4 linked regions of the Homo sapiens genome follow. The protein of the gene in region 2 purifies or fractionates together with the protein of the main gene of each other region. This does not show direct contact. Each region holds a gene or a part of one and is shown on either strand. Other genes may lie near its edges. The genes, in order: ABHD13, RNFT1, HADH and SQLE.

Region 1 (3,818 bases), on a different chromosome or scaffold from region 2:
ATTAGTAATTTATAGAAAAACATTCTTAGAAATCATACTTGCTATAATTTATTTTTTCTAAATACCGGCATAAAGTGAATAAGAATGCTATTTGGCAAAAGTATTTCTAGCCCTATCTCCATTGAAAGTTTTAAATTAAGGTCAAGATTATTGACCCATTACTTCTCTGTTCTAGTTGCTTGCAGAAAGCCACTAAATATAGCTAAAATATTCAAAATATTATATGTTAAAGCTGACATAATATTACACAAAGCTCAATTACATCTAATTTTTGAGGACTGCATGAAACAACTTGGCACAATTATGACTCATAGCGTGTATTTTTATTAAGTAAATCCTGCAAGTTTCAAGGGGCTTTTTTCTAAGTAAGATTTTCTTACTTTTCTATACATCTAAATCCTACTTCCCACCTATAGCCATTTAACTGCTAAATGTGGTAATAGGTTTTGTGTCAAAAAGCTCCAGAATTCCTTCATTCCCACACTCCTACATGTAAAACTTTTAAAATCAATAAATAAGACTTCCTAAAACTGTCTTTTGATTGTAGGAGTTCTATTTCACAGCAACTGGAACATTAAAACCAAGAACATTGTTTTGTTGTTGTTGTTGTTGGATTTTGTAACTTTTATTTTCAAGAAGTCCAATAAATGATATCTTGCCTTTGATAGGTTAGATATAACTAGGTACTGGGATTTAAAATCAAAGGTGAGAATTTTTATAAAGTAGTATGTACAATCCTGCAATGATAAAAGACTTCCTAATTTAATTCTAAGTAGTGCTAATCTTCACTATGACTGCTATTAGTGGTTCAGCTGAAGACTTACAAAATCGATAGAAGCTAAAATTCTCTTTGCCACCAAAGTTACAAATGTTAAAAAGTTCAAATATGCACATCAAAGCTGCAGTAAAATTCTAAATTTCTATTTCTACATGCCATGATCCAGACTGTACCTAACAAAAACACGGTACATTTGTATTGGAAAACAGGGTCCCATTTATTTGTAAGAAAAAGCTGGATCTCAGCATTCACCAGAGCAAAATTCAATGGCAACCTGCACATAAGTCTCAATTTCACTTCTTGCCAAAAACAAAATAGAGTTTACATAAAAATAGATATAACCCAGATAACCATATACATCAGTATATGACCAGTGCTATTTACATGTAAAATGTTGCATTGCATAATTCAAGGAATAAAATACCATCATGCATTTCATTTAACTTTTAAGGTGAAAAATGCAGTTACAGAACTAAGTTTGCTTACCATGATTGTCCCAATATTTACTTAAGAAACAATACCCAAAGGTTTCTTGTTTACATATCTCTTTCCACATCTAGCTATTCATCTGTGTAACAGATTACACCACTTTAGCAACAAGAAACTTTTGAACAATATCTATTATACTGACATATTAAACTGAAGATATGAATACATAATCACACTGAAAGTTTTGATGAAAATGTATGAAAGAATCCCAAGAATTAGTTTTTCCAATGTAAAAAACTATTTGGAATATCGTAAAGGAGCAGTGAAGTCCTTTCAAAGTTTAATGTCACTCTTCAGACAGGTACAGACATAACACACTTCTAAAAGGAACATTCTTTATCATTCTGCACAAATTAAAATACAATGCAATAATCAAAAAGGGAAACATTATATAATTGTTACATTAGATGAAGTTTTTGCCATTTCTTCAGGAGAATGGCTCTTTACGACTTCTTTGATGAACTGTTCAAGTGCAGTGAAATAGCCTTGGCACTGCCATGTGTCATTGTGAGTCCCATCTGGAAAAATGGCTAATCTCTTAGTCCGAGATGGGGAGAGTTCATAAAGTTGTTTCATCATTACTGGTGGAATTAATTGATCTGAGAGTCCAGAGATGAAAAGTGAAGGCATTCTACACTGAGAGATTTTTCTGTAGGACAAAAATTTATTTTTGTAGCACCATAAAGGAAGGTAACGCATCGGAAAGAATGAAAATAAAGTGCTGGCCATATGTGGTATGCTTAAAAATGTGTTCTCCACCATAATGGCTGAAATCCTATGTGAATTTTCAGAAGCCAAATGAATAGCCACTGCTCCACCCAAGGAACGGCCAAAAAGAAAAATTTTTGTTTTATCAAGGTCAGGTCTAGTCATCACGTAGTCTAACACAGCTTCAGAATCTAAGTAGAGTCCTTCTTCACTTGCTTCTCCTTCACTTTTTCCATATCCTCGATAATCAACCAGCAAAAGGTTAACTTTGAGGTTAACCAACATAAGTAATGCATTTGGCAACCTGTGACCTATGTTGCCTGCATTCCCATGAAAATAAATTATAGTTGGGGAATAGGGTGAATTGTCTCCAGTGTATCGTATCAAAATAAGATTCAGACGTATTCCATCTTTGGTTCTGATGAAAATGTTTTCATGTGGAATGCCAGTGGGCATGGGAACATAAAGACGTGAAGAGGATGGCTGTTCTGGAAAATAAAGCAATACATCCTGGAATTTATACAGAATACCTGCTATTGATATGAATATTAACAAAAGTAAGATAATGCCTCCATACAGATGAAAAGTCACTATTAAAGGTAAAAGAGAAATACGGCAGAGAGCCCAAGACCATGAAGCCAAGGCTATTAGCCATCTTTCAACAAAGTTCCACAGCATCCAGGACTTTTCCATTGTAGCTCTCTGTAAGTATCCTAGAGAGAGAGAGGGAGAATATCAATAATTCAACGTCTATCTATTCTTTTAAAAATCCACAATATAATAAACTATGGTACTAGGCCACATGTAATTGTTAAATATGGTAATAGGTACAGTCCATCCACAAAAGTAGCTGCTATAATTTCCCTTGTCCTTTCTGTTCTCAACAGTTTCCTTTCTACCATATCCCTCCACTGTCATATTTAGGAAACACTAATATTCTTCAAATTAACTCATTTTTAACAAGTGCTTATTCTTCATATACGTGTTCTCACGGATTTGACCCAAAAAAAGTTGATGCGATAGTGTCATTTTTTTTTTTTAATGAGAAAACAGAAGCTCAGGGGCATAAGTAGACTGGCTATCATCTGCTTCTCAATGTAGAAGAGCTGGGAGGCAAACAAGCATGATTCTAGAGATTGTGGTACATCTGCTGTTAGGTTACGTATGTCCAGGGCAAACTGTACTGAAAAGGCAGTTCAGAAATTCCAACATAGCAAGACCAATCTAATATACTTTGTCAATTTTTTTCACATACGGTAGCAAAAACTAAAGAAACTAGGGTAAGGAGTTGGGCAAAACAAAATAAAACAAAAAAAAACAACTAGGGAAAGAAAGAATAAAAGTATCCCCCCTCTACCTCGAAGTTTTAATACTAAACTTAAATAATTTGCTTAAACACTAGATTCTAATATTGTATTAGTTTTAAGAAAATTATTAATGATTTATCTTTCATATGTAATTAAAAATAAATATCATATTGCTAGTGTCATGAGATCGGCAGTATCTTTTATATACTCTTTAATGAAGTTTCACGTCCTGGGGTCAATAGATTGCTAAAATGTATTGATAAGGCAATAAATACTTGAGGGTTCAGTGTGAAACAAATACACAGAAATCCTCTGAGAAACAGAGATAAATAAAGTAAAATGACTCACTGGAGAACAATTCTTAAAAAGATTACTAAAATATGTTAACTGATATAAAGAAAGTAAAAACTATTAAAAGAGAATTTTTTGTTATCAAAAGGTTTATACATGTTGTCTTAAAAAGGCAAAAGAATTGAGATATGTTACAAATTTTCTTATGTACTATTCGTCTACTTATGCTTATTTACTGAACTTTT
Region 2 (3,643 bases):
AAAATGCTATTCTTGTATTTGAACAGGAAGTCATCTTGGCTATCCTTCACAGCCGAATTGTAATCCCACATTGCTTTTCTCACCCATCCTCTGCCGTATACCTAAATAATACAACTATTAGCATCACCACAAAGCCATTTAAATAATATTTGTAGTGGGTCTCAAAGTAGATAACAGAGTAAAATATACTGTAATTGAATATAGTTGTACTTACAACCTGGTAGTATTTACCTGGAGAGAAAAAAATGGTACAGGCTTCCTAATGTTTGTTTGTCAATTTGGATGGCTGTACAGTCATGGAAGTGCCTTCTATAACCAGTTGGTCAGTTTGCTAAACTAAACAATTCATTTGCTAGTTTAGCTTTTGTCTTATCAGTACAGCAAATCTGTTTTCTACCTCTGCTTCCTAAGTTCTTTCTACCACCTTTTCCTCGACTACAAACTGATAGATGTACTCTAAACTTGGATATAAGCACTAGCAGCCCTTCAGACATGTTTTAGATTTCAGATTCCTCCTTAGAGGTAACAAGGGGAGAAAGTGCTTCATTCTCTTTTCTAGCACCCTGCACAAATACCTAGAGGCGAACAAACCACACTATCAAAACCTCATGACCACCTCTCAGTGCGAGCTTCAATCTTCCAATTGATGGTGATTCAAGCATAAAATTCCAAAACTTTTATGGAGAAGACTAATTATAAGGGCAATTTTTTATAAGATTTTAGGGCATCTGTCTTGAAACTTTTTTCTTTTAAATAGAGATGGGATGTTGCCCAGGCTGGTCTTGAACTCCTGGGTTCAAGCAGTCCTCCTGCCTCTGCCTCCCAAAGTGCTGGGATTACAGGTGTGAGCCACCATGCCTGGCCATTTGTCTTGTTTTCTATACTATTCAAATCATCAAGTAAGCCAGCTGTTTATAATCCACATGAATTATTTTAATAGTTACTTCGAGATACTCCATGGTACTATACAAAAAGCATGATCATGAACATTAAAGCTGATGGCAGGAAGAATTTATGACGTCCAGAGACAAAATGAATTTAAATCATTTATTTTCACTTATTACTAATCTTACTACAGAGAATAATACAATACTATAATGTATCATCCTCAGTAAATTAATCTTCACTTAGAAAATGTTACTGATAAAATACAACATTTAGAATTTTCATTTAAAAATACAAATTTTATGAAAATATTAAGAATTTTTAGGATGGGAATTATAAAAGTCAATGCTGAACAAAATTCTACTTTTAGATAGTATGTATCTTAAAATATTATGAAAAATATTCTTTATTCTGAAAACAATGTCAGGAAAGAATACCTGAGTTCTCTAAAACCACTAGTTCTAATTTCAAATTGCTGTTTTGGTAACATAAAGAAAACACATTTACAATTTAACACTGCAGTTACCTGTCAAATAATTAGAATAGAATAAATGTTGCATATACATTAGGTTGAACATTATATATATTTTAAAACACAGGGTGGTTTCATTTAATCTTTTGGTGAATTGGATCATAAGTCCTACATTCTAAAACCATCTGGAAACATTTTTCTGGTAGCCCTGAAAATCCATTCTGATGCCTTATCAGTAGTCATTATGACCAAATGACATTAGTATTTTGTGGCCTTGATAGTTTATACAACTTAATATATTTGAAGGTGTGATGAAGTGGCTCCATCCTTCCATTTGTTTATATGGTCTGAAATCACAGTTCTGCAGAGTGGACATGTTTTCTCTCTGTTAAACCATAAGGTCATGCACTCTTCACAAAATATATGCTGTAATGGAATTAAGAATTAGATTTGATATTTGATAATCATTTTAAATCCATCACATTGTAGGGAATGAAAGGGATTCTTTTTTTTTTTTTTTTGAGATGGAGACTGAAGTCTTGCTCTGTCACCCAGGCCGGAGTGCAATGGCACCATCTCGGCTCACTGCAACCTCCGCCCCCGACTGGTTCAAGTGATTCTCCTGCCTCAGCCTCCCAAGTTGCCGGGATTACAGGTGACCACCACCACCATGCCCAGCTAGTTTTTTTATTTTTAGTAGAGACAGGGTTTCACCATGTTGGTCAGGCTGGTCTTGAACTCCTGACCTCAGGTGATCCACCCACCTCAGCCTCCCAAAGTTCTGGGATTACAGGCGTGAGCCACTGTGTCCAGCCTGAAAGGGATTTTGAAGAGCACTAATCCCCTCATTTTACAATTGTGAAAATGGAGAACGTATGAGACATTCAAGAAGACAAAGAGCAGTATGATTGGTAGAGCCACTAGTGTTCTGGCTGTACCATCCATTTAACCATAAAAGCTATCCTTAGGTGACACCTTTAAGATTAAGTATGATAACTGCTTAAGGTCTTTGAGTTACTAGTAACTGCCATAAAGTATAGGAAAGGGCCACAATCCAGTAACAAATGTCAGTATTGTTCTACATGGCTAGTATCCAATTATAAAATAGCCTGTTTTTTAATCACTTTGGTATTCAATCTGCCAGTTGAATTATTTTTTCCCCTTCATACGCTCCTCTGCATAAAAATTATCAGAACATAAGGGACAAAACTTAGCCAATCCACTAGTATGTACCCTGAATGCTACCTTCCACTAAACACTAGATTTTTTTTTTTTTGCCTTACAGCAAACATAAATTTGACTTTTGCAAGTCACAGAGAACTGTTGTATTTAGGTTTTTAAATTTAAAAATGTAATTACCTGACAAATGAGAAGAATTGGCTTCTGAAATTCAGCTTGACATATTGAACAAATATCATCCACATCTGAACACTGTCTCTTGCTGGCAGCCACTCCATAACTCTATGAAGATAGTAAGTTCTGTTCATCTACAAATTTCTTTCTTTCCTGTTCCTCAAATTACATAAGTAATGCTGTACTTCTCAAATCTCCCTGGAACCAGGCATTTGAAAAACTTCCCAAAGGATACAAACATCTCAAAGCTGAGCCATATACAGAACCACCTCTTGAGTGCACCAAAATGAAATCATTAAATAATACATAATAGGATTTTGAAAGATTGTTAGATCTACTAGCTTTACAAAGGATGATAGTGCTTCAAATTCAACATAACTGGCTTAAGAGACTAAGCAATCTGAAATGTAACTATTATAAAATCTATAGCCATGTATTATTTGACCCAGGACTGCCAAATTGAGCTTATTACCTGCAGCAGTGGTTCATAAAGTCAATCCAGCCAGAGGTTGGCTGGTTGAATGTAACTCATGTGGAAAGCTTGCTTTAAAAATAGATTTCTCTGTTCCACACAATATCAATTCACTAGGACCAGACATATTGGGATGTGACCCAGTAATCTATTATTTGAAAGGTCTCCAAGTGAGTGCAATATGAAGAAGACTTAGGGACCACTGAAGAATTTTCTGCCACTAGGTCTAAAAATTATTCGAAATTATAAAAAGCATTTAGTGCTAAACATAAAAAAGTTTTACGGAGAAACTGCAACTGTAAATGTCGCTTTGGTAGAATAACTACTGTCAAAACTAACTGAACAAAAATGCAATTATTTGAATTTTCTTCTCTTCTAATGTCCTAATAACAAGTTACTCGTCTCTAAGATTTTAACCTCCTCACCAGATTCAGAACTTAGTCATTAACTAGATGTGATGT
Region 3 (4,142 bases), on a different chromosome or scaffold from region 2:
GTACTGAAATGTTGGAAATGCATGCCACTTCTTTGCTCTTAATCTGCATGAGATAAGAGCTGTTAAATGCTGTTTCTTCTGTTCCCCAAATCCCTCCCCTTCATTCTTCAATTTCTTCAAAAAATCAGCCTTAGGGGATAGGAGAAAATAGGAGGAAGCTGAGAAGCAATGTTAGTAAGACAGAAAAAGTCCCATTGCAAGATGGTCAAAGTTGTCACTTGAGAGAAAATGCTAAAAAAAATGGTCATTATTATGACTTATTAAAAATGCTTATGCTGAGTAGTGGTGAGGGAATGAGGAGGATAAAGGAAGGAAAAGGTAGTTGGAAAAGGCAATAATGAAGAAAACAGACGATACACACTCCCAGAGAGGCCACAGCCAGTGTGTGTAGGTTTGCCTGGCCCCACATCACCCACATGGCAGCATCAGCGTCCCCCACACTTCGCAGGGCAATAACTCCTCAACCTCAGAACAAATGCTACTTTAATAGCGGCTGCTCCTCAGACCCTGTAATTAGGACCCTGTAAAAGGCAAGTTGTCCCATTTCAGGTGCAAATTGCCTACTGTGACTCCAACTCCAACATATTGGAGTCTCCAAGCATTCCAAACAGGATGCTGGGGAAGCCCTCCCTGCCTCCCCGCTCCACCTTCCAGGTTTATGGTCAGGAGGCTCAAGGCTATCAGAAGCTGGTTTTATTTTTTTACTTTTAGGGTTTTTTTATTCGATATAGGATCTTGCTCTGTCATCCAGGCTGGAGTGCAGTGGTGCAATCACAGCTCACTGCAGCCTCAACCTCCCAGGCTCAATCAATCCTCCCACTTCAGCCTTCCAAGTACTGGAGACTACATGCGTGCACCAAAACCCCTGGCTGATTTTTTATTTTTTGTAGAAATGGGGTCTTGCCATGTTGCCTAGGCTGTTCTTGAACCCCTGGGTCTCAAGCAATCCACTAACTTCCACCTCCAAAAGTTCTAGGATTACAGGCATGAGCCGCCGCACCCAATGGGAGCTGGTTTTAATAGCTCTGATCACAATGCACAGGAGATGTACCTCATCTGGGGACAACGCTAAGGCACCATTACATGGGGTCAGAATTAACCCCAGGAACTGTGGACAAGCTAGTATAGTGTATCTAATGAGAACTGCATTTACAGCATGGGCAAGCTGACCTCGACGAGATAATATGAACACATGTAGCTGCCCTCTGTGTGGTCCCATCCAGCCCACGGTTTCTAGTGCTGCCTTCCCATTCTGATGCCTCTCAGCACTGCCCATCAGCTCTGGCACAAATAAGTAAATGACATTCCACAAAGTTAACAGCCTTTCTGGATATCACTAAGCAAGACACAGGGCTGTGAAGAAACAAAGCATAGAAGCCCTCCTAGATATGAGGCTCAGGGACAACCTTCTACCCTCAGGTTAAAACCCATCCTAGGCAACTGGTGGCAGGGCTGGTGTAACACAGAAAAGCAGGACTGAGAGAGCTGGCAGAGCGGGCAGACACACACAAGCTGACACCCACTGACCTCCACAAGTTTCATGACAGGCACTGGGTTGAAGAAATGGAGGCCAGCGAATCGGTCTTGTCTGGTGGTGGCATTAGCTATGCTTGTAATCTGCAAGGAGGAAGTGTTGCTGGCAAAGATTGTATGTCTGTGAAGAGAAAATATAGTGGGAGTATCAGAGTGAATCTCTTCTTTCAAAACAGCATGACTCTTGGATGCAATGCACAAGGTGACTGCTTACTGCCACATCTGTTGTCCTGACCCATTGGGGGAATGAGGGAGAAGACACATCTTCATATAAGAGGCTGAAATCAAGTGACTTCAGCTTTTTAAAAATTTTTAAATTTGAAATAAAATTGGAATTTCCTGTTCCGAAGAGGTATTTAACCTTCACCAATCCTTCCTTGATTTTCCAGAACAAAATTTCCCCTACCTACTTGTATTAGTTAACTTCCAAGGTATGTGAGATAACAAGAGGTGGCTAATTGATCAAGCTACTTAACCAACCCCAGTCACAAACGAAACTCAGTGATCAAAAAATAATGAAAGAAAGACACCTAAAAGCAACAAAATTCTAAATGAACACATAAATCCTCAATCAGAAACATATGATAATAAACGTGAATTAAGATATTTTCCCTGAAGTGAAAAGCTTTATTTTTCAATTGAATGGGAATTAAAATGAAAACAAGAACACCAACATGGTTCAAAAAAATTTTAAGGTTACATGGGTAGATATGGGGAAAAGAGGATATAGGCATATGCATATATAAGACATTAACTTATTCATTAAAAAAAATCCATACTGACTTAAACCAAATTTAGTTCTTTAAGGCCACAGTAAAGTGGCGTGCCAAAAGCATGAGAGGAAAAGCTTTAAACAGGTTGACTTCCAGGCTTTCCTGCAGCGCCACCTTGCGGATAAAAACATACAAACAGGCCTGGTGCTGATTCCAACCAAGATGGACTGTAACAGGGCAGGAAAGGAAAGGATCCCTTACTGACCAGGCTTGGGGGTTTCTGCTTACCTAACAGGCAATACTATAATCTGCTCAAATCAGGGGCGGGTGGGAGGAGAGGAGGAAGAGAAGGGAGAAGAAACCAGTTATTTGGAAAGGAGGGAAAAGAGGTAAAAGGCGAGACCAGTGTGGGTAGGCAGCGGAGAGCCTTCTCTTTCCAGGTATGAGCACATCCACCTTCTCCAACAGCTTCCAAGGTAGGCCATTTAAATGCCAGGGTTTCCTTTTTAAAAAAAAAATGACATTGTTTTAAGGTCTTAAAATTTCAGTTTTCAAAGTTTCTTGCTTTTGGTCATTGGGGAAAATAATATAAACTATTCCCCATTACAGAAGGTAATGAAAAAAAGATCCTCTTCCAATAACAATGTGTGTGGCCAACACAAGCACTGTTCAACCACACAACCTGCACCACAAGCACCTGGAACCACAAAAACAGAGCAGGGACAGCCTGGGCCCAAGGCTGTGCCAGCTGTGGCTCCACACTCCCGTTAAGAAAAGAAAGTGTTATTTTAAAGATTAGTATTACAATCGTAATACCCCTTTTTGTAGAATGTTTGAAGGGCCATTCACCTGCAAAAAGGGGAAACTTGGGCACATTTGGTAAAATAAAGTGACATCAGAGCCCAGTTCCAGGTATCACCAGTCCAGGGCACTCTGGCACATTTTATCAGAAGGAGGAAATGATCTCTCCCCAGCAGACCTCTGCTTCTGCCTCTCCCAACAGGGTCAGGCTGACTTTGTTCCTAAAAGTCTCACACTGTCTTCAGAGAATACTAAACACATAGGACAGTCTTTTCATCCACAAACAAAATGTACTCTGGGCTGGGCACGGTGGCTCACACTTGTAATACCAGCACTTTAGGAGGCCGAGGCAGGTGGATCACTTGAAGTCAGGAGTTCGAGACGAGCCTGGCCAACATGCCCCGTCTCTACTAAAAATACAAAAATTAGCTGGGCATGGTAGCGCATGCCTGTAATCCCAGCCACTAGGGAGGCTGAGGCAGGAGAATTGCTTGAACCTGGGGGGCAGAGGTTTCAGTGAGCTTAAGATCATGCCACTGCACTCCAGCCTGGGCGACAGAGCGAGACTCCGTCTCAAAAAAAAAAAAAAAGTACTCTTACATGTTCCTGGAAACACTTGTCTTGAACCATCTTTTGTTTTTTTCATTCGGACACTCAGGTACCAAAAAAACTACTTTTCTCTTAAATGTTCTAAAAGAAAATCGACAACACAAGCACAGTGATTATTAGCAATGGCCCCAGACCCTAGTATAAAGAAGACAAGAGGGTTGGTGGGGATGGCAAAGGATTCAAGAGTCTGTACTTTGTCTAAAGGGGAAAGTCAGGACTTCGATCTGGCTGCCTGTGCGTCTGGTCATACTTTTCATTTGTGTGTCTTAGGCTGCTGCTAGAGAAGTCATGTTCTCTCCAGGATGCAACTGTTTCATCAGGGCTTCCAACCCGAAATGTATCACTTGACTATATTTTCTTCTCCCATTATAGGATCGAACTGTAAAATTTGTCAGTAAAGTACCTCTCAATACGGCTGCTTAAAAATTGTAGCAAGCATTCAATAATGGTGGTGATCTAAAACAAAAACAAACAGTGCCAAGAAAG
Region 4 (4,142 bases), on a different chromosome or scaffold from region 2:
CTGTTAACACACCCAGCGTTAAACTAAGAACCAAAGAAGACACACACACATCAAAAATGAGTCTCTGCCTTCAAATCTGGAGAACTGAACAAAACTAATGTAACTATTTCAGAAACTGTGAATGCTTCTGGAAGTCAATGAGAGTCTTAGCAAATCTGTAATATCATTTAAAGATAACAACATAACTATTTCAGGTCTGTAATTCCACTTCAACTTCAGAAAGAAAATGCAACATGAAATAAACCATAATCCTCTCCTGAGTAAACCTGTTCTGCCATAAAGACATAGGAACACATTTAGTCCTTCTTAACACTTCTTTCAATGTATGAATATGTAGATTTGTCACCAAAAAGAAATAAAAATAAAATAAAACCAGTATGGAAACTCAAAAAAAAACCCCAATTTATATATAATGACTGAATATATGAAAAAGTAGATTTTCCAAACCAAATGGAAAGGGTAGAGTTATCCCCCAACTGTTGATGATTACATACTATCCATTAAAAGTGACTCAGGACAAACTGCAAAGAACTTTTTAGTACATCAAATAATTTAAATGGCAGCAAACAAAACACTGAATTCATCAGAATCATGTAAAAACTTCTTTCTTAAATCTAAAGCAGCAAAAGCAGTTGAAAAATAAAAAACTTTCAATAGAAAATATCACATTTTTAAAGTGCCAACCGAAAATTAGAAAGTTAAAAAATTAATTTTAAAAATAAAAACTAAAACAATACTTTGGGAAAGACATATGAAATAGAACAAAAGATTAATACATGTATATATAATAAAATTTACTCATTAAAAACCACTGGAAAAATATTAAGACGCCAATAGTAATGGACAAAAACATGTATGGATGATTCATATAAAGCAATATAGAAACAGTGAACAAATCAGAAAAAATGTTCAAACGATAAAAAAAATTAAGTAAAAATTGAAACAACAGGACACCATCAAAATCACTGATGAGATTATGATAAAACTGATAAATTCATATACTACTGGTGATACTATGAACTAATATTATATTTTAGAAAATATAACAATAATTATCAAGAACCATGAAGAAATTAGCATCCTTCGATGTAATAATCTTACTCTTGGAAATCCATGTAAGAAATTCATCCTAAAGACATAATATTTAATAATCTTTAAAGTTACATGCAAGAATAGGTTCACTATAGTGTTACCTAAAAAAGGATAACTGAAAATAACCTAAACATTCATCTAAGTTTGAAAAGTGAAGTACATTATGAAGTCAACTGAAAAACAACTATGCTTGGGCTTAAAAAGATACTGATAAAGAATGGTTAACAGTATTGGAAATATGTTTCTGTCAAGTGAAAAAGTGGACTCTAGTATATATATTAGTGACATAAAATGTTCAAATATGGTATTGACTGGATGTCTGTGTCCTCCCAAAATTCCTAAGCTAAAACTCTAATCCCCAATGTGATGATATTTGGAGATGGAGCCTTTAGAAGGTGATTAGGTCATGAGGGTAGACTCTCACGATAGGATTAGTGCCCTTGGAAAAAAAGACAGGGGAGGGCTTGCTTCTTTGTGTCTCTCCCACCTTCCCCACCCCACCCCACCCCACCACCCCATCCCCACACAAAGTAGACAGTGCATAAATATTTCCTAAATGAATAGCCAGTGCTTAAAAAGCACTGGTTGAATGGATGAATGGTGCTTAAATAAAAGATTCTAAGTAATAACACTGTAACAAGTATACAACATACCCTCTACAAATGACAGTTCCCTTCGCCTTTCACAAAATTTAATGCCCTCATTCTAGGATTTTCCAGTCCTTAATTTTGACCATTACAATCTTTTGGCCATTTTATTATATCTCATTAAGTCTAATTCACATCTAATCATACTATTAAATGCTTATTTTATCCTTTGCTCTCACTTTCATGCAAATTTGTTGGTAAATGAGTATAGAAAATTTTATAAATGAAAATAAAATGGAATACCTTCTTACTGGTCATAGGATGGTCTAAGTGAAGAGTGCTTGTTCATACCACGTAACTCTCCTGAAAATCAATATGAACCTACCTCCAAGACCAAGGTCTTTGAGAACATGATAACCACCCGGCTGCAGGAATTCTCCAACTATTCTGTCAGGCTCTTTTAAGTCTCTCTCAATGACTGTCACCTTTCTTCCATCTCTGGAAAGCACAGCTGCCAAAGCAGAGCCAAGCACGCCAGCTCCCACGATGATAACTTCTGGGTCATTCTGAGAAGATGTTGATGTACAGGCAGCTGTTCCTATTAAGCTTGTTTCTGAAATATTGGTTCCTTTTCTGCGCTGTTTAAAAAAAAAAAGGTAAACTAGGTATCCAAATTTGTTAGATTCAAATCATGCTACCGCTATGTGGACACACTGGACTTTTGCATCCTAGGCTAAAGCTAGATACTAAATATTATCAAACCAAACAAATTGTTACATTTTAAAATCTAGATAATATATAAAAATCAATGATATCAAAATATTCGTTAAATAAAAGTGTGTCATATTATCCCAATAAAATTAAATATTTATTGTTTTCTAAACATGATATTTGGAAAATGTTATACAGACATATTTAGAAATCCACACTGGGCCGAATATAATAAATGTTTATAAGGGGCTTCAAAGACTTATTATAGGGCAAACTGTATCATTAATAACTAAATTCTTCAAATATATCCTGGGAATCGACAAGATGCAAATCACTTACAACTTCTGATTTGAGTTCATGTTACAAACTATTCGGCACCTTTTAGACATTTTCTTTTTTTTGTTTGTTTTTTTGTTTGTTTGTTTGAGACTGAGTTTCACTCTTGTTGCCCAGGCTGGAGTGCAATGGCGCAATCTCGGATCACTGCAACGTCCGCCTCCTGGATTCAAGCAATTCTCTGGCCTCAGCCTCCCGAGTGGCTGGGATTATAGGCATGTGCAACCATGCCCGGCTAATTTTGTATTTTTAGTAGAGACTGGGCTTCTCCATGTTGGTCAGGCTGGTCTTGAACTCCCGACCTCAGGTGATCCTCCTGCCTCAGCCTCCCAAAGTGCTGGGATTACAGGCGTGAGCCACTGCGTGCGGCCTTAGATATTTTCATTATTCATCTTTATTTTCTCTTTCTGGATTTTCATTTGAAAAATCTATGTTAATTTAATATCACTTTTATATGACAAAAGGATTGTCAAATCCTGCCTACCAATCTATTAATTGAAGATTATCTAAATAAACAAAATTACAAGAGAAGAAATAACTCATACCGACTCTTAGATTTGACTTGTTTACAATTTTGGTCCTTAACATATAAGCACATATTTAATTTATCCCTCCTTTTTCCCCATCCTGATACTCTAAGAGATCCTAGTCAAAGAGGTGGTCCCCAAAAAAGGAACAAGGAAAAACATTAAACCTGTCACTGGCTGAACTGACAGCAAAACTTTAACTTTGATCATAAAAAGATGCAAAGTCTTGTTTTGAGAGATTTATGACCACTAAGAACAACAGTGCACAGTGGCTTTTTAAAATGAACAATTCAATTTTGTAGTATTTCTTCTTGGTAGATGGATTCACACATTTGAATACATTTCAGATACAGAATTGCAAGGAACCACCTTCCTTGAGTTCTTTGACCTTAATGATTAAGATAAGACTAAATGCCATTTGAAGGGGTTTTTAAAAAATAATCAAGCAAAAAGGAAGACGAAGCCTAAAATCCTTTAGAACTTTACTCTGTGATTCTAATATCCACCCAGCATTCTTTTACCTCTATAGTGGACTGGGAATTTGTCTATTCTTTTTTTTTTTTTAATTTCTCTCAGAAAAATACTTTTCTGTCCTTTTACTATGGGAAGATCTCAATATTCTACTCTTCCCATTAGTATGTCTTAATGGCCAGAACTGACTATATTTAAATTACTGTAGGGGGCAAGACAAGCCCCTTTTGTCATCTTAACCAAAAATGTGCTTCTTCATAAGTTTTTCCTGTTTTATATACACACACACACACACACACACACACACACACACACACACCCTGAAAGGAGAGCTCTGGAGGAAAACAGGCCTTGCAGAGCCTGATCAGTAGAGTAAGCACTAATGGGAACTTAGTAGTCAATAGATCACAATCTAACA

Evidence for each region.
Region 1: the proteins of RNFT1 (region 2) and ABHD13 purify together in Homo sapiens (affinity purification with mass spectrometry, with the first as the bait; one large-scale study listed by BioGRID). This does not show direct contact.
Region 3: the proteins of RNFT1 (region 2) and HADH purify together in Homo sapiens (affinity purification with mass spectrometry, with the first as the bait; one large-scale study listed by BioGRID). This does not show direct contact.
Region 4: the proteins of RNFT1 (region 2) and SQLE purify together in Homo sapiens (affinity purification with mass spectrometry, with the first as the bait; one large-scale study listed by BioGRID). This does not show direct contact.

Annotation. Positions count from the first base shown.
Region 1 is NC_000013.11:108,228,069-108,231,886, reverse strand, and holds part of ABHD13 (protein ABHD13), read right to left. Parts: intron 2,689-3,818; 5' UTR 2,669-2,688; coding exon 1,655-2,668; 3' UTR 1-1,654.
Region 2 is NC_000017.11:59,951,329-59,954,971, forward strand, and holds the end of RNFT1 (E3 ubiquitin-protein ligase RNFT1), read right to left. Parts: intron 2,819-3,643; coding exon 2,717-2,818; intron 1,784-2,716; coding exon 1,649-1,783; 3' UTR 912-1,648; downstream 1-911. UniProt on the Homo sapiens protein: E3 ubiquitin-protein ligase that acts in the endoplasmic reticulum (ER)-associated degradation (ERAD) pathway, which targets misfolded proteins that accumulate in the endoplasmic reticulum (ER) for ubiquitination and subsequent proteasome-mediated degradation.
Region 3 is NC_000004.12:108,017,052-108,021,193, reverse strand, and holds part of HADH (hydroxyacyl-coenzyme A dehydrogenase, mitochondrial isoform 2 precursor), read right to left. Parts: intron 1,655-4,142; coding exon 1,528-1,654; intron 1-1,527. UniProt on the Homo sapiens protein: Mitochondrial fatty acid beta-oxidation enzyme that catalyzes the third step of the beta-oxidation cycle for medium and short-chain 3-hydroxy fatty acyl-CoAs (C4 to C10).
Region 4 is NC_000008.11:125,001,351-125,005,492, reverse strand, and holds part of SQLE (squalene monooxygenase), read right to left. Parts: intron 2,318-4,142; coding exon 2,065-2,317; intron 1-2,064. UniProt on the Homo sapiens protein: Catalyzes the stereospecific oxidation of squalene to (S)-2,3-epoxysqualene, and is considered to be a rate-limiting enzyme in steroid biosynthesis.